Linked DNA regions of Homo sapiens. The protein of the gene in region 3 purifies or fractionates together with the protein of the main gene of each other region. This does not show direct contact. Each region holds a gene or a part of one and is shown on either strand. Other genes may lie near its edges. The genes, in order: NSF, GDPD5, GOSR1, PKP1, OCRL, VSIG1 and STX18.

Evidence for each region.
Region 1: the proteins of GOSR1 (region 3) and NSF purify together in Homo sapiens (affinity purification with mass spectrometry; 2 studies listed by BioGRID and IntAct, with this or other methods). This does not show direct contact.
Region 2: the proteins of GOSR1 (region 3) and GDPD5 purify together in Homo sapiens (co-immunoprecipitation; one large-scale study listed by IntAct). This does not show direct contact.
Region 4: the proteins of GOSR1 (region 3) and PKP1 purify together in Homo sapiens (affinity purification with mass spectrometry; one large-scale study listed by BioGRID and IntAct). This does not show direct contact.
Region 5: the proteins of GOSR1 (region 3) and OCRL purify together in Homo sapiens (co-immunoprecipitation; one large-scale study listed by IntAct). This does not show direct contact.
Region 6: the proteins of GOSR1 (region 3) and VSIG1 purify together in Homo sapiens (co-immunoprecipitation; one large-scale study listed by IntAct). This does not show direct contact.
Region 7: the proteins of GOSR1 (region 3) and STX18 purify together in Homo sapiens (affinity purification with mass spectrometry; one large-scale study listed by BioGRID and IntAct). This does not show direct contact.

What each region holds. Positions count from the first base shown.
Region 1 is NC_000017.11:46,695,169-46,698,668, reverse strand, and holds part of NSF (vesicle-fusing ATPase), read right to left. Parts: intron 1-3,500.
Region 2 is NC_000011.10:75,519,442-75,522,941, forward strand, and holds part of GDPD5 (glycerophosphodiester phosphodiesterase domain-containing protein 5), read right to left. Parts: intron 2,417-3,500; exon of another isoform or gene 1-2,416. UniProt on the Homo sapiens protein: Glycerophosphodiester phosphodiesterase that promotes neurite formation and drives spinal motor neuron differentiation.
Region 3 is NC_000017.11:30,525,250-30,528,092, reverse strand, and holds the end of GOSR1 (Golgi SNAP receptor complex member 1), read right to left. Parts: 3' UTR 501-2,843; downstream 1-500. UniProt on the Homo sapiens protein: Involved in transport from the ER to the Golgi apparatus as well as in intra-Golgi transport. It belongs to a super-family of proteins called t-SNAREs or soluble NSF (N-ethylmaleimide-sensitive factor) attachment protein receptor.
Region 4 is NC_000001.11:201,318,006-201,321,505, reverse strand, and holds part of PKP1 (plakophilin-1), read right to left. Parts: intron 2,889-3,500; coding exon 2,711-2,888; intron 1,691-2,710; coding exon of another isoform or gene 1,628-1,690; intron 1,240-1,627; coding exon 1,125-1,239; intron 1-1,124. UniProt on the Homo sapiens protein: A component of desmosome cell-cell junctions which are required for positive regulation of cellular adhesion.
Region 5 is NC_000023.11:129,546,759-129,550,258, reverse strand, and holds part of OCRL (inositol polyphosphate 5-phosphatase OCRL), read right to left. Parts: intron 1,697-3,500; coding exon 1,658-1,696; intron 1-1,657. UniProt on the Homo sapiens protein: Catalyzes the hydrolysis of the 5-position phosphate of phosphatidylinositol 4,5-bisphosphate (PtdIns(4,5)P2) and phosphatidylinositol-3,4,5-bisphosphate (PtdIns(3,4,5)P3), with the greatest catalytic activity towards PtdIns(4,5)P2.
Region 6 is NC_000023.11:108,062,065-108,065,564, forward strand, and holds part of VSIG1 (V-set and immunoglobulin domain-containing protein 1 isoform 2 precursor), read left to right. Parts: intron 1-2,645; coding exon of another isoform or gene 2,646-2,723; intron 2,724-3,500.
Region 7 is NC_000004.12:4,437,549-4,441,048, reverse strand, and holds part of STX18 (syntaxin-18), read left to right. Parts: intron 1-2,539; coding exon 2,540-2,655; intron 2,656-3,500. UniProt on the Homo sapiens protein: Syntaxin that may be involved in targeting and fusion of Golgi-derived retrograde transport vesicles with the ER.

The DNA.
Region 1 (3,500 bases), about 16 Mb from region 3:
GAAACATGAACTATTTGCACTACTGCTTACTTGCAAATCAGAAGGATAATATATTATGTACAAGGGTGACAAACATTTTAGCTTTACAATTAGAAAATGTGTAACTACAAAGAGTCAATAAAAATCAGAAATTCATATATTGAAAAGTACTGATATCCTCTCAAATCAGCCAATTAAAAAAATGGAGATAACTAGCATTTATAGAGTTTACAAGGCACTTTTATATAAAGTATTTGCTTTCATTCTCATAAAAATCTGATTAGATAGGTAGTGTCTCCCCTTGACAGGTCAGAAACAAAAAGGTGGAAGAAATATAATGCATAACCACACCTTCTGACTACGATATCTGCGATCTTCCCACCATCCCTCATTGCCTCATATGTAGATAAACCCAATATATGCTTGAAGAAAGCATGTTTCTTACTGAGACAACGGCTTAAAGTGAAATTTTGGGATAGGATTATTGTAGTTAAAATGACAGATGACTAAATAAGAGAAAAATTCCATGGCCAACACATATGAAAAATATGACAACTAGTAAACTAGTTACTGTGGATTACATCAAGATGCACCCATGTGGTCTGAGATGAAAGATCAGTATGGTAGGGACCAGTTTTCACACTGTTTACATCATTTTTCTTGAAGTTGCCATCTCTTCTTATTAAAACAGTATAGCATGGCCGGGCATGGTGGCTCACGCCTGTAATCCCAAAACTTTGGGAGGCCGAGGCAGGCGGATCACGAGGTCAGGAGATCGAGACCATCCTGGCTAACACGGTGATCCCATCTCAACTAAAAATACAAAAACTTAGCCAGGCGTGATGGTGGGTGCCTGTAGTCCCAGCTACTTGGGAGGCTGAGGCAGGAGAATGGCTGAACCTGGAAGGTGGAGCTTGCAGTGAGCCGAGATTGCACCACTGCACTCCAGCCTGGGCGACAGAGTGAGACTCCGTCTCAAAACAAACAAACAAGGAAGAATAAAAACATAGTCCCTGAATGGATCCATTATATAAAGACCCAATACAATATTCCCACACCATCCAAACCTTTGGCATTCTTGAGCTAGAACAAATCCACCTCTATTATGTAGGGAAATTATGACTTATGGATAGAGCGTGATTCAGAATAGTTACGTAAGTTTACTCATTTAAAAAATATTGGCTGGGCATGGTGGCTCACACCTGTAATCCCAACATTTTGGGAGGCTGAGGCGGGCGGATCACGAGGTCAGGGGTTTGAGACCAGCCTGGCCAACATGGTGAAAACCCATCTCTACTAAAGATACAAAAAATTAGCTGGGCGTGGTGGCACATGCCTGTAGTCCCAGCTACTTGGGAGGCTGAGGCAGGAGAATCACTTGAACCCAGGAGGCAGAGGTTGCAGTGAGCGAAGACTGTGCCACTGCACTCCAGCCTGGGCGACAGAGTAAGACTCTGTTTCAAAAAAAAAAAAAGAAAAATAATTTACTGGACACCTACCATGTGCTCATTATTTAGATCTATCTGGGGTACTATGGGAGACTCTGAGGTGAATAAGATAAGGATTTAAAGTCTAGAACAAGGGCCAGCAAACTTCTGTAAAGTGGCAGATAGTACCTAAAATAAAAGCACTAAAATAGGCTTTGTGGGCCATGCAGCCCCTATTGCAAATACTCAACTCTGCCACTGTAGCATGCAGGCAGCCATAGACAGTACACAAATTAATGTGTACTGTTCCAAAAAAGCCCTTTATTTATAAAAACTGGTAGTTGGCTGGATTCCTGGTCTAGAACCAGTGATAGGATATACCCAAATATCTACATACTCAACCTAACTGTTCAGGCTTTTATTTCTTGCCTGAACTGTTATAAAAGCTCCCCCTCTTGTCCTGTGTCGCCAACTCCACTCCTCTAACTACTCCACTCGACAGAGCTGCCAGAGTGATCTTATGTTTTAACACTATGTCACTGCTATTCTTAAAACTCAATGGCTTAGCACTACTCACAGAAAAAAAGTCCATACTTCTTAGCAGAGTATAAAAGGCTCTTTGTGCTCCATCCCTACTTTAGTCTCCTGACTTATCCCCCACAATCTCTCTACCATCCCTCCCCTAACTTCCATGCTGAAGCAATACTAAACTACTCCAACGCACTATGCTATTCTGTGTCTCTGCTTCTTTGCATATGTTGTTCCCTCTACCTAAAAGGCCCTGCTCTACCAACAGACATGCATATGAAGGTTTCTCTCACCCCACAAGTTGACCATATCTGACATGAGTTCACTCTCTTGCCTTGCATGTACTTTCTGTTACTGCACGTGGAGGGTTAGACTGAGGGCAGCTTAATGGTAGGTACTTTACTTCTTTGCAGTCGGGGTATTAACTCCTAGCACAGGGTCTAGCATGCAGTAGATGCCGAATAAATCTACTGTGAACCAAAGTCAACTGACAGTACCATAAATGATACATTACTATTTCAAGAAGGAAACGGGTATAACATTCTTGAAAGGGAAAATGTGAAAAGGTGTGAGGACAGTGGTAGCATATGAGCCAGGTTTTGAAAAGACAGGTAAACGTAGAGGATGAAGATCCTCAGTGATGCAAAAAAAACAAAACCAAAGCAGAGATGTTGAAAAATAAATTAATGTCTGATGACCGGTGATTATTTAAGTTTGGCTGAAGTATGTGGAGAATAATCAGGAGCACATTTGGAAAGGCCAGTTAGGGTCAGATCTAGAGGACCCAAAAGACCCAAAAGAAGCCTGTACTTTGTTTTGTAAATGATGGGGAATCACTGAAAGTGTCTGAATGGTTGAATGATATGATACAGGAAGGTTAATCAAAGAGAAGGTGGGTAGTGGCAGTGAGAACTAAAAGGCACTGCCAAGACAGAACTGAAAAAATTTGGCAAGTGACTTGACCTAGGGCACAGTAGAGTGCCAGGAATCAAAGATAATCCTGATGTTTTAAGCCTGGGAAATTGGGATAAACAGGGAAATGCGAGCAGAAAGGAAAGTAGTAAAAAAGACAATAAATTTGGTTTTGCAATATTAAATCTGAGACCTGATAAAACATCTAGGTGAGGGTATTTAGTACAAATCTGAAAGTAGGAGACAGATATGTTCAGTAAATCTGTCTACAGGTGGTAACTAAAACCTAAAGGAGAGAAGAGATGGAAGATCAAGAGCACTTTATCAAAATAAAAGTATCCTAGTACGTATTTCTACCATGGTAACTACAATATTATTGTACTAATTTGAAAATATGTCCATTTTCCTGACTCTGAACTCCTTGAGGGAAGAGTTCACAATTATCTTTATGTCTCCAGCCCAATAGCTTGAACACATCAACTATTCAATATATTTGCTGAATAAAGCAGCCCCCAAAATTCTAGTACGTGGAAACTCCCACTTCCTCTGACATATTACAACTTTTTTTTTTTTTTTGGAGACGGAATCTCGCTCTGTCACCCAGGCTGGAGTGCAGTGGCGCAATCTCAGCTCACTTCAAGCTCTGCCTCCTGG
Region 2 (3,500 bases), on a different chromosome or scaffold from region 3:
CTGCCCTTTGCCTGGGATTCATTCCAAACGCCTTTCCTGAGCACCTGTTTTCTCTAAGATCCTCTGTGAGGTGCTGGAGATACAGATCATAACAGCTAACCTGCACTGAGTGCTCATTATGTGCTGGGCATTTTTTTGAGTGCTTTACACGTATAATTCATTTCACCCTCACAACTCTATGATGAAGATGCTGTAATTATCCCCATTTTACATATGGGGAAACTAAAGCCCAAAGAGGTTAAATCACTTGCCCAAGTCATTTAGCCCTACCCTGTGCCACCAGCCACAGATACTGATGGGACCGGCCCCTGCCTCAGGAGCCTGCTTCTCACAATTTGGAAGTTTTGCATCTGTGTGTTTCCTTGTCTAATGCTGTTTCCCCCACAGACCAGAATCTCCAACCATGTTACATTTCGGTTGGATGTGTGTGTGAGCAGCACCAAATAAATGCTGCTTCCCTTTAAGGAAGAACTCACACTCTCTGCCCAGCATCTGCTAGCTGGACGCCAGACGGCTTCTCCCACCTGGGTCATTTCTTCTGCGTAGGCCTGAGAAGAAAACCCAAGTCCCCAGATATCCCAGTCCTGCTCCCTCCCCTGAACCTAGCTCGGGACCCTTCCAGGCCAACAGCACCTGCTTACACACCACTGTTCACAGGGAAGGTGGTGGGAACTGTGAATCTGCAAACCCCAGCTAAGTCCCCCTAAGGGAAGGCCTCCCTGCCATCTGGCACGCCCTCCCTCCAGCCATCACTCACTGGACTCTTCCATCAGCTTCTTACTGAGTTGCTCGTTCACGAAGCCATCGAGGGGATGGGCAAGAAGACTCATGCTGATGGAGTACCCACCTGTGTGCCAGGCCTGGACAGGCACCCCACTTCCTTCATCTCATTTAATAACAGTTATTATCAGCCCCAATGTACAGGGAAAAAACAGAGGTGCAAAAGTTGAGCAAGTTGTCCATGGGGCAGCTTGCACTGCCTCCCCTGGCCCGGAGGGTGTGGCTCTGTGCCAGGCACACTGCTAGGCACTCAGAGGGAGGGGAGGATTCGGTGGGGGCACATAGAATCTAGTTTTGACAAGCCAGCAAGGGAAGCAGACCAAGCAGAACCCCAATCCACAGACCACAGTCAGTGTGCAGAGGGCCATGAATCAGCAGCAGAGGAGGCTTGGATCCCACCTGCATGGGAGGAGTACTGGAAGCTTATAGCAGGCAGCATCTTTGGACCTGGTTGAACTCCTTACTGCTCTTTCCCATGGTCACAGCAGGAGAAAGGGTAAGCCTTGGCCTACAAAGCTCTGGTGCCCAGTGTGTGTTTGCCACCACCCCAAAGGGGGCAAAGGGAGGAGAAGCTGGCTGCCCTGCCAGTGACCCCGCTGTGGCCCGGCCAGCCTGCCTCCAGTCCCGCCAACTTGGCCTGGCCTGGCCCAGCCAGTTCCCAATCACAGGGTCTCCTCTGCCAGCTAATGACCATGCTGCCTGCAGCTCAGGCCACCACCCTCCTTTGGGCGAGGCAGCTACCCACACAGCCTGCTGGCCCAGACAGTGGCCAGGCCAAAAATCACAGCTGCCCGTCATACCACATCCTCTGGCCCTGGTGCTGTGGTCTCCTCCTCCTCCCTCCAGGGTCACGAAAGACGATGTAGAAAGCTGGAGCTACAGGGGAGCTCAGAACCCACCCTGCTCCCCATAGACATGGACACACGGGACCCCAGAGAGGGGCCGACTCACCCCAGGTCACACAGACAACCAGCCAGCCTGTGCACGGCCTAGGGCCCAGGTCCTTCCTGGGCCCCATGCTCAGTCCAACACTGCCCTTCCTTAGCCTTGAGAAAAAACCTTGTCCAGGCTTTTTACACACAAAGTATGCTTTCAAGGTACTTGGGTGGAGGTGAGGAGACAGGACATCTTCTAAGCACAGATTTACAATTCAAACAGATGCAGCTTGGCTCCCTGCTCCCTACCTTTGAGCTGTGTGACCTCGGGCAAGATCAGGTACCTCTCTGAGCCCCAGTTTCTAGGGGATAACAGTAGCTACCTCAGGGAGTTTGTGTGAACAAGAGTGTCTATAAAACATTTAGCACATTGTCTGGCTCATAGTAAGTACTCAAGATATCAGCTGTTGTTGATATCATCACTGTAGTATTGTGTGGATACATTTTACAAACTGCAAAATGTTATGGATAGTAGGTATTATTTTTTACTATTACTGCTGAATGTTAAAGATTCAGAGGGGGCATGACCAGAGGGTTGGGTAATCCAGGAATGTTTCTGAGGGAATTTATGACCTCAGTCAGGTCTTGACAGGTGGGGAGGTAAGTGGAGCAGAGGCAGGGATGGCGGTTCTGATGGGAGGAACCACAAACAAAGGGGCTGTGATGGGGCCACATGTGGTGTGTTTAGGAGACAGTGCAGAGCAATGAGCCAGAAGGCCGGGCAGAGGCTAAGGTGACCAAGGACCTGAATGCCATAACTAGGGCCTGGTCTTCATCTTACAGGCCGTAAGGAGCCACAGAGGCTTCTAAATGGGGGCTCCATTAAGCTTTCTGAAATGTGAGTTCTGTCTAACATTCAAGGCCCTCTCCTATATGGGCATTCACCCCTCACTAACCCCACCAAGCCATCCTCCTCGCCCCAAGTTCTCCCTACCTCTCGGCTTACCACGCTATCCCACCTGCCCCGCCACTAGCCCACTAGCTCACACTCATGATGAGGCACCCCCTTGTTGAGTGCCTAAAGTGCCGTGTGTTTCACACATGGGACCTCAAGATGATCCTTAACAGCCTTGAGAAGTGGACATCACAACCGTCATTTCACAAAGGGGGAAATGGAGGCCTGATGGGATCATGTGTCTTTCCCATGCTCTCAGTGAGGCGGTGGCACAGCCAGGATTCCTTCTTGGAGGGATGTCAGGACCCCCCGTCTTTGCAGCAAGTTTCCTCTAGCTCCTGCCCAGACAGCCACCTCCCTGACAAAGCCTTCCTGGTTACTCCAGTCCTCAAGGGCCTCCCCTCCACCCCTTTCTGCCCTGTACCCTCCCCCTTACTCCTCCCCGTCACCACCTCTCTGGAATCAGAGGCCCACTTGATCCTAGCTCAGCTAGCTTGGTTCCCAGTGTTGCCTGTGGGACCATCTGGCCCCCAACAGAAGAGACAGGACATCATCAACCCCAGCTCTCTCCTGTTGGGGGCCAGATGACACTTTCTCCCTGTCCTATCCTGCCTGCCCCCCCATATCCAAGACTGCTAACAGCACAGACAGGAGCCCCCACCTCCTCTGGTAGGGTTCAGAAGCTCACTGAACATAGAGCTATTTCCCTGAGCCTGCCCCCAGCTGAGGGGAGTATTAATTATTCACTGCACCTTGGTGCCTAGGGAGGTCAGACAATGGGCCCGAGGGAATGGACACCAGCTCCAGGCACCACAGCCCTGCCAGCAGGAAGCCAAGGGAGGGGGTAAGAATCCAGAGCCCCTTGCCGGTGTCCCCAAGCAGACTGATTC
Region 3 (2,843 bases):
TTACTGGTAGGCACGGGCATTGGCACAATTGCTTTGGAAAAATGTCTGACAACATATCTTAAAACTGAGTATGTGCATCACCTATAATCCAACAATCTTATTCCTAGGTATAAGCAACAGAAAAGTGTACATGTGTGTCCCAAAACCCATGTTCGAGAATGTCCAGAGCAGCACAATTTGTAATAGTTCCAAACTAAAAATAAAAGCTATCGGTCTAGAATGGAATGACTAAATAGAATGTGTGTACTTATAGAGCGTGGTTCTCCACCTCTGGCATGCATCAGAACCGCTTGGAGGCTGGTTAAACTGATTGCTGGGTTCCACCTGTCTATCTACACAGAACCGACCTTATATTTCCCCGCTCAGCTGCCTTTATCAAAATTAAGGATGTCTGCTGATCACCTCTTGAATGTTCTCTCCTCTCCCACATCAGCAAGAGGGAAAAAAAGAGGCAAAAGAGGCCCGGTTTCTCGCTATTAGGACAAACCCAAGGATATCTCTTATGTCAGGTGAGCCCTGTACCCCTGGCTTTGCTGAGATGCTTATGAGCATTTCCTCACATAACCCTGACAATATAATCAGGGCACAATTATGGTAGCCATCCTTATCACCATTTTATAGAAGAGGAATTGATCACTGGCTGGATTAATTGCAAAGCTCTAAAATTAGACAGTGGGGCTGGTTGCACAACTAATGTACTAAAGCCCAGCAGTACACGATTTTTAAAAAATTAATTTATTTTTGAGACAGGGTCTCTGTCACCCAGGCTGGAGTACAGTGGCACAATCGTTGCTTACTGCAGCCTTGACCTCCTGGGCTCATGATCCTCCTACCTCAGCCTTCCGAGTAGCTGGGACTATAGGTGCACACCATCATGAATGGCTAATTTTAGTTTTTGTAGAGACAAGGTCTTTGCTGTGTTGCCCAGACTGGTCTCAAATCCCTGGTCTCAAGCAATCCTCCTGCCTCGGCCTCTCGAACTGCTGGGATTACAGGTGTTAGCCACTGCACCCAGCCAATTCTACAATTGTAGATTCCCATTATGCCTCCTGAAGTTTCATGTTAAGAGATTCCCCTTCACTTCTAGGGCTAAAATACTAGTGGACTGTTCATATGATGGTTTCTGAATGACATGTGACAGCTTTTCAGCACCTGTATTATTTCATCCTGGGTTTCAGGACATCATGAGAAACACTTATCAACACCAGAGATACCATAATCTCTATCCCCAAACTACCTTGATGGTTACTGTTTCAATATAAACAATTACAAATGCAATCATTTAGATTTCTAATTTATTATTAAATTACATACCAAAGCTTCTTCTATACAGTCAGAAAATGCACATTTAGATGAGAACAAAAATTAAGTACAAATACAATAAAATTGGTTCCAAGAAGCTATTTTAAAAGCAAAAACTTACAAAGTGCATTTGGAAAACAATAGGTTTTAAAAATCTGTATTGGCATTTTTTCAAGAGGAAACATCTTCCATCACAGGAAAGTATGGTTGGAATTGATTTCCCTCCTCCCTTAAGAGCTAACAGGGTGGGAATGGATGCAAATACCTTGATATTAAAGTGAGCTCTCAGGTATCTTTTAATTTTTTTTGCAGAGACAGAGTCTTGCTACATTGCCCAGGCTGGTCTCAAACTCCTGGCCTCAAACGATCCGCCTGCCTTGGTCTCCCAAAGTGCTAAGATTACAGGCGTGAGCCACTGCACCCAGCCCTATTGTCATGGTTTTTCATATTTTTTCAGTGAAATGAAAAGTTTTGAGTGGTTACTTAAAAGGACCAAAAAGGAAAGATTCATTATAATAAGACAATAGTTGAGGGGGCATAACTTCCCCTAAGAGGTAACATTTGGATCCAGAAGTAGAAAATTCCTTCTGACCTCCTGGCTGTGACTAGCATTAACAAGTAACTAACTGTTAGCCTCTGAATCTGGTAACTGGTCCGTAAGGAGGACAGCAAAAAAGGAGAGAAAGCCAAGGTGGTTAAACAAAAAAGTTAAATGACATGGAGCTGAAAGAGCTCAAATCCCTTCATGGGATCCCCACGGAGCCCCTTCCTGTGGACACACACCTCTCTTCCCTTGCTGGAGGTTTCTTTCTGCAAAGAAACCCTAAGAGGAAAAAGCACTGGCCTAGCTGTCTACATGTGGCCCTGGGTCACCTTAGTATAGGCTGCAGCACGGAGAGGTTAGTCAGACCTATCTGACACCAACATCCATACCAAGCCTTTTAACTTCCTTGGAAGAACTGGTTTATTTTCATAAAGAAAATAACCAACATAATTCCATTACTTCACATAAGCAAAACCCTAATGGAAAGGCCCATCAGCCATCAACAGGGTTTGCTTGGCTGCAGTGAGCTAGACTAGCTTGTGTCCCAGTTCACTCTCACACAATCAGCTTTAATGAATGCACAAAAGAATCAGACCAGTAAAAAAGACTGGTAGTATAATTAAATAAATAACTTTATTTATGATACTTCAGATTTTATAAATGCCAACTACATAGCAAAGTCCCATAAATTTTAACCGAGACACAACCACCAATCAAGGCCCTTTGAAAAATCAAAGATAATAAAGTGTCAAGGGAGAAAAGTTTTGTTCTCCCAACAGAGAATTTAATCAATGAACTTACTTCTCTGATCATTTAAGGTTCACAATGGGAAAACTTCTTTTCTTTTAAGGGTACCCTGAATCAATTAACAGTCAATCAACCCACATTTAGAAAAATAAACCCCATAGTTAAGAAAAATATATCAAATGCCCTTCACACCCATAATGTAACAAAACTTTGACACCAGAATGAAAAACTTCTCAGTCTCTGTACCAAA
Region 4 (3,500 bases), on a different chromosome or scaffold from region 3:
CTTTCTTCCTGGGGCCAGTCCTTAGCTGTCAATGTCAGCGGTGCTAAGTCCACACAAAACACAGCAACACCTGGAGCCCAGGGCTTCATCATGGCAGCTGGGCTCAGATCTTTGTCAATCTCCTTTGGCAAACCTCCAAAGGACTAGGGTTTGGGGGCAGCAGATTTACCCTCCTAATGATGTTTGGCCCTTGCTGGGGTCTAAGGGAATCTGACTTCCAGGGCTTGGGGTTACACAGGTGTTGGAGATATTGCACACAGAGCAGAAAAGCATCTTGCCCTTTGGAAGCAGGCTGAGCAGCCCAGTGACAAGGCTCTCCTCTGTGGCCCTGCTGTTGCTTCCAGTGGAGGGAGCAGGAGATAAAATCCCTCCTTACGGCAACTGTGCTGAGAACCCAGGTGCTGTGATGTCAGCCCGTTCCCTGGCGATCTGGAGCCTGCTGGGCCTCACTATCTCCTGAGCCACTGTCCTGCCATGGTGGGAACATCTCAGCCTTCTGTTTATCTGCCCTCCACAACTTTTTTTCTTTCTGTTTGTCTGTGCTGTGTGTCCAGAAGTCCAGAGAGGGCAGCAAGATGACTGCCAATGGCTTTTCTGGGAGGCAGTGGGAAGATAGCAGTGGCAGAAGGAGCCTCATCTCAGGGGGGACACTAAGCCCTGGGGGCACCAGTATGGATTCCTCTGGGCTGTGGGGCAGGGCTCGGGGTCACAGGACAGGCCTCAGCACCACCAATGAAGCACAGCCAGCAGATGCTCGCTGGGAGCTTCCTCTGTGCCAGGCCCTCTTCGTGTTTTGCTTATTAACTAATCAAGCCTTTCAGACAACCCTTGAGGTTGATATGATTATGACCCTTTCCATTAGAGTGAAGAGTGAACCGGGAAACAGAGAGATTAGGGAAGCAGCTGCATCTACTCCACTTCTAAGTGAGGGAGAGTGGATTTGCATGGGCACGCTGTCCCCAGAGCCCACTCCTGTAGCCACCACTGAGCCCTGCATCCAGATGCCTCTTCTACCACCCCTGAGTCTGTGCTCCTGTCTTGTCACTGGGCCAGGCCTCAAAGGCACCCAGAAAATGTAGGGGGCTGGGCCTAGGGGTCAGGGTGCCACCAGGGGATGCACTCACCTTGTCGTCACAGCGGCTGGCCGCTACACAGTTCTGGACATAGGCCATGAGGGAATCAATGAGCCCTGAGTAGTTACGCATGGTCTGGCGGCCTGCATCGGCCGAGCTCAGGTTCCTGGGGGAGAGAAGAGGGTGGAAGAGGGCAGAGAAAGGGGGAAGAGAGAACGGGGAAGGTGGGGACAAGAGAGTGTGGTGGGGGACAGGCAGGAGAGAGAACAGGCAGGAGAGGGGAGGGCAGAGAGGAGACGACGGGGTGGAGATTGGAAGTTGTGGTAGAAGGAAGGAAGGAGAAGAGGAAAGGGAGGAAAGGAATGAAGAGAGGAAAAGATGAAAACGGAAGGAAAGAGAAACCATTTAGCCAATTCCGCCTGGCCCTGGCTGAGGCTGAAATGAGGTCTCATTTGCACTCAGTTCTTCTCCTCCTTCACTCTGCCCAGTAACTTTATAACTGGCAATGGCTCCATGTGGCAACGGTCCCTCCGCAGCTGCATCCCAAGGCTCACACCCTGCTACTAGTGGCCCTTTGCGGAACAAGAGCCAGAAGCTCCCGCATGCCCAGTCTCTTTCTGTGGGACAGGAAGAAGCCCTGTTGATGCTGGATCAGAAGTGGATCTGGGGGTGGCCGGGCTGGGCACCAGAAGCTCCCTCTCCACCCAAGCTGTGTTCTGCCCCCAGCAGTAGGCTCACTCCCAAGCAATGTGGGCTCATCCCCAAGCAATGTGGGCTCATCAGCCTGGTGCAGGTGGGGTGTGGCTGCTGTTGCTACCAGTAGCACATCAACCCCATAAAACTCTTAATTATCCTCACTTTTCATCTCCCCAGCCTCTCTGCTTCCTGGAGGCTGCTACCGGAGGCTGGCAGGGAGAAACACAAGTTGAGACACAGAGGCACATGCCAGCTGCACCCACCACTCTGGGGGGATTCTCAGGAGTTGGGAAAGACAAATCCCATTAAAGCAAGACAAACCCCATTAAAGACCCTAAAAGGGATCCTGCTCCAGGGTTCCAAGCCCTGTACCAGCCGCCCCTCCACACCCACCCATTTCGCCAGCTTGTAAACCACTGCTTCTAGAACAAGCCCTCCCACCAGCCCCACAGGGGCTTTGCCACACCCTGGTATGGAACTTAGGCAACTTTGGGTGAAGCAGTGCCATCTTCATGCCAATGAACATGGCAAATGGTTTTAACACCACAGCTGGGAAGTGACTCATTAGCAACCCATCGGTAGACTTTTGTCTAAAAGAACACTCTTCAAGATGATAGCACAAGAAATGCATTTTTTTTCATGGGGTGGAGGAGGGAAATGGTTGAACCAGTTTGGATATTCAGATCTAGGCATTTTCAAGCTCAGATTTCTGACTAATGTCCGCTGCATTCTCTCAAAGGGGGTGGTAGGGTCCTGGGCCTTATCCAGTTCCAGGGAAGTTAGGAAGGCCTGAGTCCCTGTGTCTTGGAGCCTGCCCATAAGAGGGAGTGCCGGGTTGTCTGTTATGTTCTATGCACCGGCTGAATGTTGGCTGAGATGGGGCTGCCTGGGGAAGGGCCCAAGGCTGGGACAAAAAGACCCCATGTATCCTCTTCTCTCACCTCAAGCAGCCTGTGGCATTGAAGAAGACCTCAGGGTCCACCACTTCCCGGGACATGTTGCTATTGCCATCGCACCAGCCAGAGAAGGGAATGATGACGCGGTCGGCCAGAACAGGCAGGGCGTCGGCAATGAGTTCCTCCTTCAGCTCGTCAGTGGAAGACAGGTTCCAGAGCAGCCCTGGGGGTCAGAGACCATCAACCCAATTTGTGCCAGGCTCAGGATGCCCTAGGGACCGAGGTAACAGCCCCAGCCTGGACTCTGGCAAATGGGCCCTACTGAAATGTCGCTTTCCAGGTAGCCCTGGTCTGTAGAACCTATTGTCTGTCTGTGTCATGAGGCTATTTCTCAATGCCCCAACCAGACTGAAGGTTCTTTGCAGGCAGGGAACATCTCAGAGTTCTCTGTCAAGGCCAAAATTATGCATGTGGAAAGTGATCAAAAAACGTTTGATTGATCAGTGGTTTTTAGTATAAATTTTAGCACTTGGAGTCTTCTAACGCTGTCTCTTTTCCATCTGAAAGTTATGCCAGAAATACTTATCAGTCATTACTCTGTACATGGTCTGATCTTCCCAGCCCAATTCTAGGTCTTCACGGTGACCTCTTCCTCTTGTGCCCCCCACCTTGAGTGCCTACCATATTTCTTGAACACAGGGTAGGTGCTTAAGGCCTGTTAACCCCTTCTCCCCTCAGTCTTACTCTCTTTCCATCACCTGGGAATCCCAGGGCTTGTGGAATATGGATCTTGCCTGGACATCAGCCTTCCTCCTTTTGCTCTTTAACCTCAAAA
Region 5 (3,500 bases), on a different chromosome or scaffold from region 3:
AATGTTAACCACAGTGGTGATCTCTAGATTGCAGGAAAATAATCTTAATTTGATACTTTAAGCTTTTCTGAATTAGTAAATTGTATATAATGAAGATGTATTACTTCTGTGAGAAAAAATTATTTACAAAGCATTTAACACCAATATCCAGACAATGGGAAAATGCATATTTACATTAAAATCAGGCCTGCCTAACAAACCCAAGATCTCCTTCCTGCAACACACCGTGTACCATAAAGGTTTATGTATGAAGCCCAAGGATCAAGATAAAATATGGTTTCAGTGCAAATACTACTAAATGGGTAGAAATAACAAAGGATTTTATTCAAGTGGTCACTTACCTATTTTCCCCCTATGAGCCAGTAACTAGAACTCTGGACATAGCAACACATGGCTAATGTAGAAGCGGCCACAACAAAACTAATGCCGAAAATTAGGTGCTTATAAGAGAAAAGGCACAGCTCAGTTTAACTTTTCAGCTTTGAATCAAATACTTCTCCACATCAAATACAGGACATTTCCATCTCTTATTTCAGCAGCAGTGTCAGTTGTTATGGAATTGCTTTTGTTCTAGTTTTGCTTTTTTAAGTGTTGTTTTTGCCTTCTCCTTTCTAAGCACAATAAGAAATAGACATTAAGTTATTTTCTCTCTTGGATACTTGCAGCTGGGGTTTACCTGGCCTTTCAGGCACAGCCTTTAAGACTTCTAAAATTCACGACCAAAGGGAAAAAAAAAAAAACTCAAGCCAGAAAAAAAGCCTACTTAAAGTGTTCAATACAAATTAATAGTGCCAAGGGCAGGGACTGTCTAAACAAAGTTATGTAAACCCCTAGTCCCAAGCTCAGTGCCAGTTCCCACTCATCCAAGGACTCAACCAAGAGATAAGGCAACCCATTTGATTTAGATTCATGTGGTCAGATACTCTTTTCCATAGCAACCTCACAGTAGCATCGAGTGCCCATTTTCTCCACTCCATAAAATAGTACAATTAGATGATAAACAAAGAACAGTTTGCACAGAAAGTCAAAGATGATTTGCTTCAAACAGATAAAAATGAGAGAATGGAAACATTGAAAAGAAGATCATGTTCCCTCTAATAAAGAGATGCCTTGAGGGGATGGGGCTTAAATAAAAGACTAAACTTTTTTTTTTAAAGGAATGCCTGGACAAGCAATTTAAGGGACTCTTCAGCCTTCCAAAAAAATACAACAAATAAAGGAAAATATTATGACTTAACACACAAAATTTAAAAAGAGGGTAGGGAAAAAACTTAAAATGTAATAGCAGTTAAAAAATGACCAAAAAAACTCCACCAATAAACCTTATGTGCTTTAAACATCAGCCCTTCCTACAATTATCAATTCTACAGCAATGATTCAACTGACAGCAACAATACTGGTAGCTCACGGAAGTTCAGCATTAGAAAGGTAGATCATTATTTTTTATTTTTATAAAGATTCTTACCAGCCACCTGCTTTTTCTTAGGCTTAGCCTACATGTTTTTGGGAAACAGTGCTAATTTGTATGGCTGCTACAGGAGACTACAGGAAAAGATGGTAAAATAAAAAATGTGCCCCAAAAGGTGTCTTAAATGTAGTGAGTGTTCAAGTAAATATTTGTTGAGTAAAAATCAAGCACATTCAGAAAGATACTCACTGTTAGAAGCTATGTCAATCAAAAGAGTTTCTTCTGCTTCTGAGAGGGGAAAAAAAAGAGAGTAGGATTAGGGAAGAGAAAACCACTCACTACAACCAAAAGAATACATGCCTAACTAAATAACTGCTTCTCTCAGTCACTACTCCTAGGTCTTAGAACATATTTTTTTAAATCCCTTTTCGTTTAATATTTTTTAAAGGGATTTTTTATAGCACTGGGTTCTAAAGACTATGAGCAAATCAACTAAAATAAAAATGAACTGAAGAAGTAACCAAATGGAACTCCTCAAAGCAAATCAACGAATGAGAAATTAATAGTACAGAACATAACAACATGTTAATTCAGCGAAAGCAAGTTTAATTCCCCTTAACTGTAACATAATGATTTAACTCTGGGTCCTTTAGATACTTCTTTAGATAACAGAAGGCAAAGGAAGTGACCCTGAAAGCCCAGAGGTGAATTACTTTCTTAACTCAGATCTATTCTCTGAAAATTTCCCAGTGATCTCATCACCTCTGCCCCTGCCCCACACATGGGGGCAGAGTATACCTTCAGGTTACAACTACTACCTGTGGGCCCAAGGCCCTCCGTACCAAACAGGGTGCAAAGCAGTCTGCAAGTTTGGATTTCTCTTATCTCTCAATGGTTCTCCTGGACTTCTTCCTTTACAACAAGTGTCTAGACCCAACCTATCTCTTCCCCTCTGATTTCTCTGGATTTGACCAAGTGCACCTGCCAGACCCTCCTGGCTAATTGAACTCTGGGTACTGACTCCTTGGGATTAGCCTGGATCTACCTTGGTCAAATGGAGTAGTCTCACCTTTTTCACCTCCCTCCCAAGACTGAATTGTTTATTTGGCTCCATTACTCAGGTACAACAGAAGCAACTGGCAAGGAACTAACTCCTTTAACACTAAAAAGTAGTCTCGATATTATTATTAGGATGATTAAACAAGGGGAATTAGGGCATCAAGACATAGATATTGTATGCTTACTACTGTTCTTCATTAACTTTTAGTTCTGTAAAACCTGAGTGTTTACAGATGGTTTTCTTTTTCTTTTTTTTTTTTTTTTTTTGAGACGGAGTCTTGCTCTGTCACCCAGGCTGGAGTGCAGTGGCACGATCTCGGCTCACTGCAAGCTCCGCCTCCCAGGTTCACACCATTCTCCTGCCTCAGCCTCCCGAGTAGTTGGGACTACAGGCACCCGCCACCATGCCCGGCTAATTTTTTGTATTTTTAGTAGAGACGGGGTTTCATCGTGTTAGCCAGGATGGTCTCAATCTCCTGACCTTGTGATCTGCCCACCTTGGCCTCCCAAAGTGCTGGGATTACAGGCCTGAGCCACCGCGCCCAGCCGGTTTTCTTTTTCTTTAGAGATGGCCTCACTCTCTCACCCAGGTTAGCATGCAGTGGCACAATCACAGCTCACTGCAGCCTCGAACTGCTGGGCTCAAGCAACCCTCCTGCTTCAGCCTCCCAAGTAGCTGGGACTACATGTATCTGCCACCACGTCTGGCAAATGTTGTTTTTTTAATTTTATTTTTGTACAGATGGGGTCTCGCAATGTTGCCCAGGCTGGTCTTGAACCCCTGGGCTCAAGCAATCCTCCTGCCTCAGCTTCCCAAAATGTTGGGATTACAGGTGCAAGCCATCGCGCCTGGCCACAGTTTACAAAATAGATGCAGGGGTCAGGAAATAGAAAGGAGATGAAAATCAAAAGTAAGTCTTCCTTTAGTCATGGGGAACTACGTTACATGTGTGCACATATTTTCCCAGGTTCTAAGAAGCAGCACTACGATCTAACAATCAGCAATTGATTTCTTATTAAAAATACTAAGAGA
Region 6 (3,500 bases), on a different chromosome or scaffold from region 3:
GGCAGGCTAACATGGAAATTTGGGGTGGTCTGGTGCCTTTCTGGTCACACAGATGGCTTCATCTTCCATCCAGTCTGTTAATGCTAACACTACAGAGACCCCACCTGTCCCTGAACAGACCATGCCTTGACTCTGCTTAGCATGAATCTCTCAGACAATACTTATTCTTCAAGAATGTTCATAGTGAAAAAATACCCTTTGCCAGTCTCATAAACAACTTAGACAACTTCTTTCCCAGGACCTAGTGTTCTTATGTTCTCTGGCTTCTCAGGTTTTACAACCTGAAATACACAGGACAGAGCCACACAATAAAGAGTTGTCTGCCCAAAATGCCAGTGTCACCCCTACTGAGAAATACTGCAAGTTCTTCCCCACCCCACCATCAAATTTATGTATTGTGTCCCATTCACTTTCTGCTAAATCTGATAAATTAATCTCATGGTAAGGTGTTAGGGACTAGCGAAAGCTTATTTTATTCTCTTCTAAAGAATGCATTGAATGGGACCTTCCATGCCTTCTTCCAAAAGGAGCAACTCAAATGGCAGATACCCAGGCAAATGGAGGGTTGGTAAGAGAGTTGGTTTGGAAGCAAGAGAGTCTTTCTTTTGGTATCCCATTCCTTCCACATGCCATCCCTGCACCACAATACAGTCCAAATAAAATTCTGAGCTTGTGACCATTGCCACCTTATACCTGCACACCCCTTCCCTATCCTATGGCTAGCCCCTCTATCAGCAGTACAAGAAAGCAAGAAGCTGGAAAGGAAAGAATGGGTGGTTTGCTGTGGATGTCCATGTCCTCCACCTTCCCAGAAGGAATCTGCAAAAGCAGCTCTGGAAGCTAACTCCAACTCAGATTCAAACAGAAAGCAGACTGAATTCTTTCAACCCTTCTTGTTTATACTCCATGCTTCTAGTTAGAGAGCAGTGTCACTAAGCTGAGGAAAAAGTCTTTTAGGACAAATCTGGTTCCCAGCTGCACGGCCTTGTGTGAATAGGAACTTGGCACAGTAGGAAGGGAAAGGTTGCTCTGCAAAGAACTGAGGGGCCTACAATTGCAGCTGGCAAATATTGAGGGCATCATGTGGTGAACATACTCAGCATGGGAAGCATCATGCCAATAAATAGCAACAATTGGCAGGAGAAAGGTTGGGCTGGAGCAGGGAATGGAATGGTCCCAAAAGGAGAAGGTTGCCCAGGAATCATCTTTCTCATCTTAAGAAGCACTGTGAGTGCCATCTTAATATATTCAGTGGGAATCAGAAGGTCTGAATTCCAGGTCTGACTGTAAATTGTGTGACCTTGGGAAAATGGCTCCCTCTATTGAGGCCTCGGTGTCCTTTTTTTGTATTAGAAAAGGATGAATTCGAGTTTACTAACCGCAGGCCTCTGGGTCAGATTTGGCCAGTGGATGTATTTCAGTCGGCCTGCCCAGTATTTTGTTTGTTTGTTTCAACAGTTCGAATGCCTTGTTTGCGTTGACTTTTCCGTTCCCTGCAGTCCCCATATCTGTTATGAGCTTACCACTACTTACCAGCCCCTCCCAGCCATTTCCCATATTTCCAATATCCATCGGGCTCCTGAAGGCCCCTTAACCTTAGAAACCACAAACCAAACTATCTCACAGAGGTCTTATAATTAATGTGCAATTATGACTCCACCCATCAGCCTCTAGCGTCACCCTGGGGGCAGGCAGAGAGGACCTTGGGAGAAAGCAGGGCAGTCTACCATGAACCCAAGCACAAAGTGCAGGTGGGTAAAAAATTAACAAGCGCCCCTTAAGGGAACACTGGGATGGATTTCCTTAAAAAAATCACCTCCTCCCCACCTCCACCCAAAGATGTGGCCCATTGTACATCCGGGGCTTTTTCTGGATCTCCATTGCTTTGACGTCTAAATTGATAATATTCTTTCTTTGAAAAGTGTACAAGCCACACAGGATCATGGGCCAGGCTTTGGCCACTGTTCAGCTTTGATTTTTAAAAGAGTTATTCTTTTATGGAAAGTGGAATCAAGTTGTAGCCCTTCCTATATGATTAGATAAGCAGTTTCAGGAAAACACTTCTTTCTTTTTTTCTTTACAAGGACAGTGTGACTGTGTGGACTTCCCCTTAACAGAAAGCCCCTCCATGTATGTGTCTGGCTGCTGCTGTCTACCCCTAGGTACTTTACTTCTTACAGAGAACTGTGAAGCCAAAGCCTTGGCTCTTTTAGGTCTCCATTGTTAGCCCTCACTACCCCCATTTCTGTCTCTAATACCTTTTAGTGTCAATCGTGAGAGGGCAAAATGTATTAGACTACAGCATGAGGAGCTAGCATGTAAGAGGTAGTAAAGGTCTTTTTCATGGGTAAGGTTCCAGGGCCTCATTGCTTATATACTCATTTCACCTTGACTCATGCCCAACTATGGGACTTTTACAGTGGGCATGGACACATGGATACAGTGGACACTTTTACTTCTTCTCATATCCTAATTCTGGCCTAAAACACACCATTTTGGCCTCAAGATCTCTGCAGAAATAAGGTCCTTTTCACCTGGATCCTCTGGGACTTGCTGTGGGCCTCAGGCGTGACTGATGTTGTATCTCATTGTGATGTCATCAAGCATCAGTATAAAACAGGGCTGATGTTTTACACTGTCCACAGTCTCCTTGGGAGGAGGGGAAGTGGCCAGATGTTGAGGCTGTGAAGGGCACTCTTGATGGACAGCAGGCTGAACTCCAGGTAAGAAACAACAAGACCTCAAACTGTCAATTAGAAAGTAAATAAGCCCCATGCTGCCTAGTGAAATTGAAAGCCTGATAGCGTGGGTGCCAACTCAAATGAAAGTAATCCTCTGATGTATTGAACCTCCTTCTGTCCCACTTGAATACCTGGAGTTAATCCTGGCTTTCTGGTTTGGAAGTCAAACAAGACCATTCTGGGGCAAGAGTTTGTGATTTCAGTAGGTGTGAATGAATGAATTATAAATGGCTGCATTTATAATGCAAGCAAGAAAACACGTTGATGTTAGAAAAAACGGGAGAGAAACAAATAGTTTTCTCTGTAAATGTACTCTTTTCCTGGGATTTTTCCCTCAAAATCCAGCTTTCTGCCTTAGTTTTAAAATATATTGACTTTCTGCTTAAAGGAGAATACATTTGAATTCATCTAGACAATATCTTTTGGTTTTCTAATTGCTTTCCCTCTTTTATTGGCCTGTTAAGGTAAAGCCCACAGTACAAGGAATTAGGAAAATTGGATTCCAGATCTGTCTCAACCGTCAATTTTGCCTTTTATTTTTTAACCTCTCTGGGCTTTGGTTTCTTCTGTAAACTGAGGGAAGTGAATTAAATGAACTGTAAGGCCTTCCAGTAGATTTTATGAAAAATTAGTCTCACCAGACTAAGACAATACAGTTTATTGAACAATAACAATCACTTGAATAATATACATTTACATGAAACCAACAAAACATGTACATAGAAGGTGTGTATTATGAAGGGACCTCAGGAATTACCT
Region 7 (3,500 bases), on a different chromosome or scaffold from region 3:
ATGAGGCTCCCAGCAAGCACCAACTTGCTAGCCATGTGTGTGGCCTCCTTGGAAGTGAACCCTCCAGCCCTGGTCAGCCCTTCAGATGACTGCAGCCCTAGTTGCCTTCTAACTGCACCCTCCTGAGACACACAGAGCCAGAACCACCCAGCCAAGGTGTTCCCAAATTCCTGACCCCAGAAGCAGTGATCAGTAATAAATCTCACTGTTTCAAGGCACTAAGTTTTATGACTCAGCTGTAGTAACCAGAACAATTAAAAAGATTGATAACAGTGACTTTTGAAAAAATTTTTTGTTAAATTTTGTAGAGGACCATTTCCTAAATAGTCTTTTTGAGAAAACTGCTCTCAAAAAACTCTGTGAAGAGAGTGTCTGCAATCAGGTTATTTGCAAATACCATCCTTTTTGGAAATTCAAAATGTATTTGAGCATATTAAAGGCTCTGAAAACTTATATAGTGAAACACCTTTCTAGCTTTGACTCAGCTTTCTCAGACTGATTCGACCACAGAAGTCCTTTCCCACAGCCCAGGATGGGTAGAATATACCCCACATGGAGCAGTTGTTACGAGCATGGGCTTCAGAGCTAGGTTCCCTGAGGTCATGTCCCAGCCCAGCCATTTGCTGACTGTGACCTGGGCAAGTTTCCTAACTTCTCTACACCTCAGTTTCCTCCTTTGTTAAAAGGTTGTTAATACTAGTACCTACCTGATGGGGATATTCGAAATTAAATAAATTTATCCATACAAATTGCTTAGAAAAAATGTCCACTATATGAGCCATTAACAAATGTTAGCTGGCATTAGTAATATCACCCTAATATGCATTTACATTGTTCCTTTAATTACAGTCTCTCTGCCTAACAATATGGAATTTATCCTAGATAGCACTCTGCCTATAATTTTATAGCATTTATGTAGATTCTAGTAAAGCTATTACAAAGCCTGTTATTGCATAACCTAAACGTTTTCTTATTAACCAGTTACTTGTATTTATAATGCACTCATTCATTCAACATATATTTATGCAATGGAATACCAGGCACTAATCCAGAATCTGGGATCTAGGAGCAAGGCTGACAACCAACAGATAAATAAACAGGGGGATTATAGACTGTGATAACTGCTATGGAGAAAACAGATGCAGAGGAGTGGGAGGCGGCCTTTCCTTCACAGAAGAGTCAGAGGTGGCCTCTCTGAGTAGGTGAAATTGAGCTGAGCCCTGTAGATGGGAAGGAAGACGATGCCCTGGGAAGAGCCCGTGGGGAAGAAACAGGGGAATGCCAAGTGCAGAGGACTCAGTCCTGAAACAAGTCTGTGCCTTCAAGTGGGTATTTAAGGACTTGTGCTTTCAGAGCTAACTTATATTAAGATGTGACTTAGAACATATACGTGTGTGGGTATAGGTATATATATGTGTGTGTATGAGTATATATGTTGGGGGGTATGTGTGTGGGGGTGTGTGTGTGTATATATATGGGTAGGGGGTATATATGTGTGTGTTTCTGTGTGTGTATGTGGGAGTATATGTGTATGTATATGTGGGGGTATATATGAGTGTGTGTGTGTATGTATATATGTGTATGTAGATATATGTGTGTGGGGGAGGGTATATGTGGGGGGTATATATACATATCTGCACATATATGGTGTGTGTGTGTATGTAGGGGGTATATATGTGAGTGGGGGGTATATATATGTAGTATATGTATGTGGGTGTGTATATATGGTATGTGTATATGTGTGGGTATGTGTGTGTATATATGTGTGTGTGTTTATGTGGGTGAGTATATGTGAATATATGTATGTGGTGTGTGTGTATATGTGGGGGATATACATGCATGTATGTATATATATGGGGTATGTGTGTATGTAGGGGGTTATATATGTGTGGGGGGTATATATATGTGGTATATATATTGTGTGTATACATGTGGGGGTATGTGTGTGGGGGTATATGTGTGGTGGTATATATGTGTGTGGGTATATATGTGGGAGGGTATGTATATATGTGTGCATGGGTATATATATGTGGTATATATGTGTGTGTGTGGTGTGTGTATATGTGTGGGTATACATGTGTTGGGGGTATATATGTGTGTGGGGGTATATATATATATATGAATATATGTATAATATGTATTATATATTATTATTAATAACATACTCAGCAATCTTTTTGCATTAGTGTCAACTACTGGGTAAGCATCAATCCAGCTTCCTGGGTTTGTTGAGTGCGGTGTGTCAGTCTATGGAGCGTATTCAGCACATACCAACTGCAGCCTCCCCCTGCATGCTGGTCACTGTGCCGTGGCTGCAAATGCAGAGGGCATGCACAATCTCTACCCTGCAGGCAATAATGCCAGTGTTAAGTGCCCCAGTGGAGGTGTGTCCGGATGGCCACTGGGCCCAGAGGCAGTGACTGCTCCCCAGTACAGGGACACAGAGCAAAAGCGCAGGGTCACATGTGACTCCTTCTGTTTTCAAAAAGGAATCCTGTTATGGAAATAAAATACCTGCCTGCTAATTATTTATTTTTAGATCTAAGCTGGAACCAGAACCAAATACAAAGACAAGAGAATCCACATCTTCTGAGAAAGTTTCACAGAGTCCTTCAAAAGACTCTGAAGAAAACCCTGCCACTGAAGAACGTCCAGGTACGAATTGAGATGAAAATCTCACCTTGCATTTCTTCCTTGTGACATGTTGGCAAGAGTACAGCACAGGAACGAAGTAGCACAGTCTCAGACATGTTTTGGTGTTTGTATTTGCATAAAGCAAAGGAAGCAGGAGGCGGCAGCCTTTGTGTCTGTCACAGTTGATCTTCGTGAGTGCCACAGAGGCAGGGGGTGCATTCACCCAGTCACCTGGGAGCTGGCGGGGTCCGGGAGAAAGGGCCTGCTGGAGGGGTGAGGCCGGGAGCTGTCTGCCTCAGGAGCCCTGTGTGCCGGCCTCAGGAGAGGCAGCATTGCCTCCCTGGCAGCCATGCCCTGCATGTCAGCTCTGAGCTGCCAGGCCTGCATCCGGGTAGAGTGTATAACCTCAGCAGCCTTGCACAGCCAGTCAAACCAACAGGACAAAATGCAAATCTGAATTGACGTGCTGCCTATCACCACAGATACTAGAGGGCCCATGGCTTAGAATAGTTCCTGATGCACAGGAGATGCAGAAGAAATACAGGGTCTCCATGAAGTCCGAAAATGTAGGGGGACATACACAGTGTGGTCATGGATGTCTGCGATCTGTGTGTCTGGCTGGTACCCCTGCGTAGGGATGCCTGCATAGTTTGCCATATCTCAAAGGCAGAGTGGAGCAGGGTTCTTTGTGTGAATCACAGGGTGATGGCGTGCTGGAGCCAGGAGAGACCTGGGAGTCCCCTTTAGCATCCTTCTCCGTAGTCTCATGGCAGTTCTTATTAACTCTTGTCTTCCAGATGCTAGGCATGGTCCTGGACATGTCACAGAAATTACAGGTTGAGTATCTCTTATCTGAAATGCTTGGG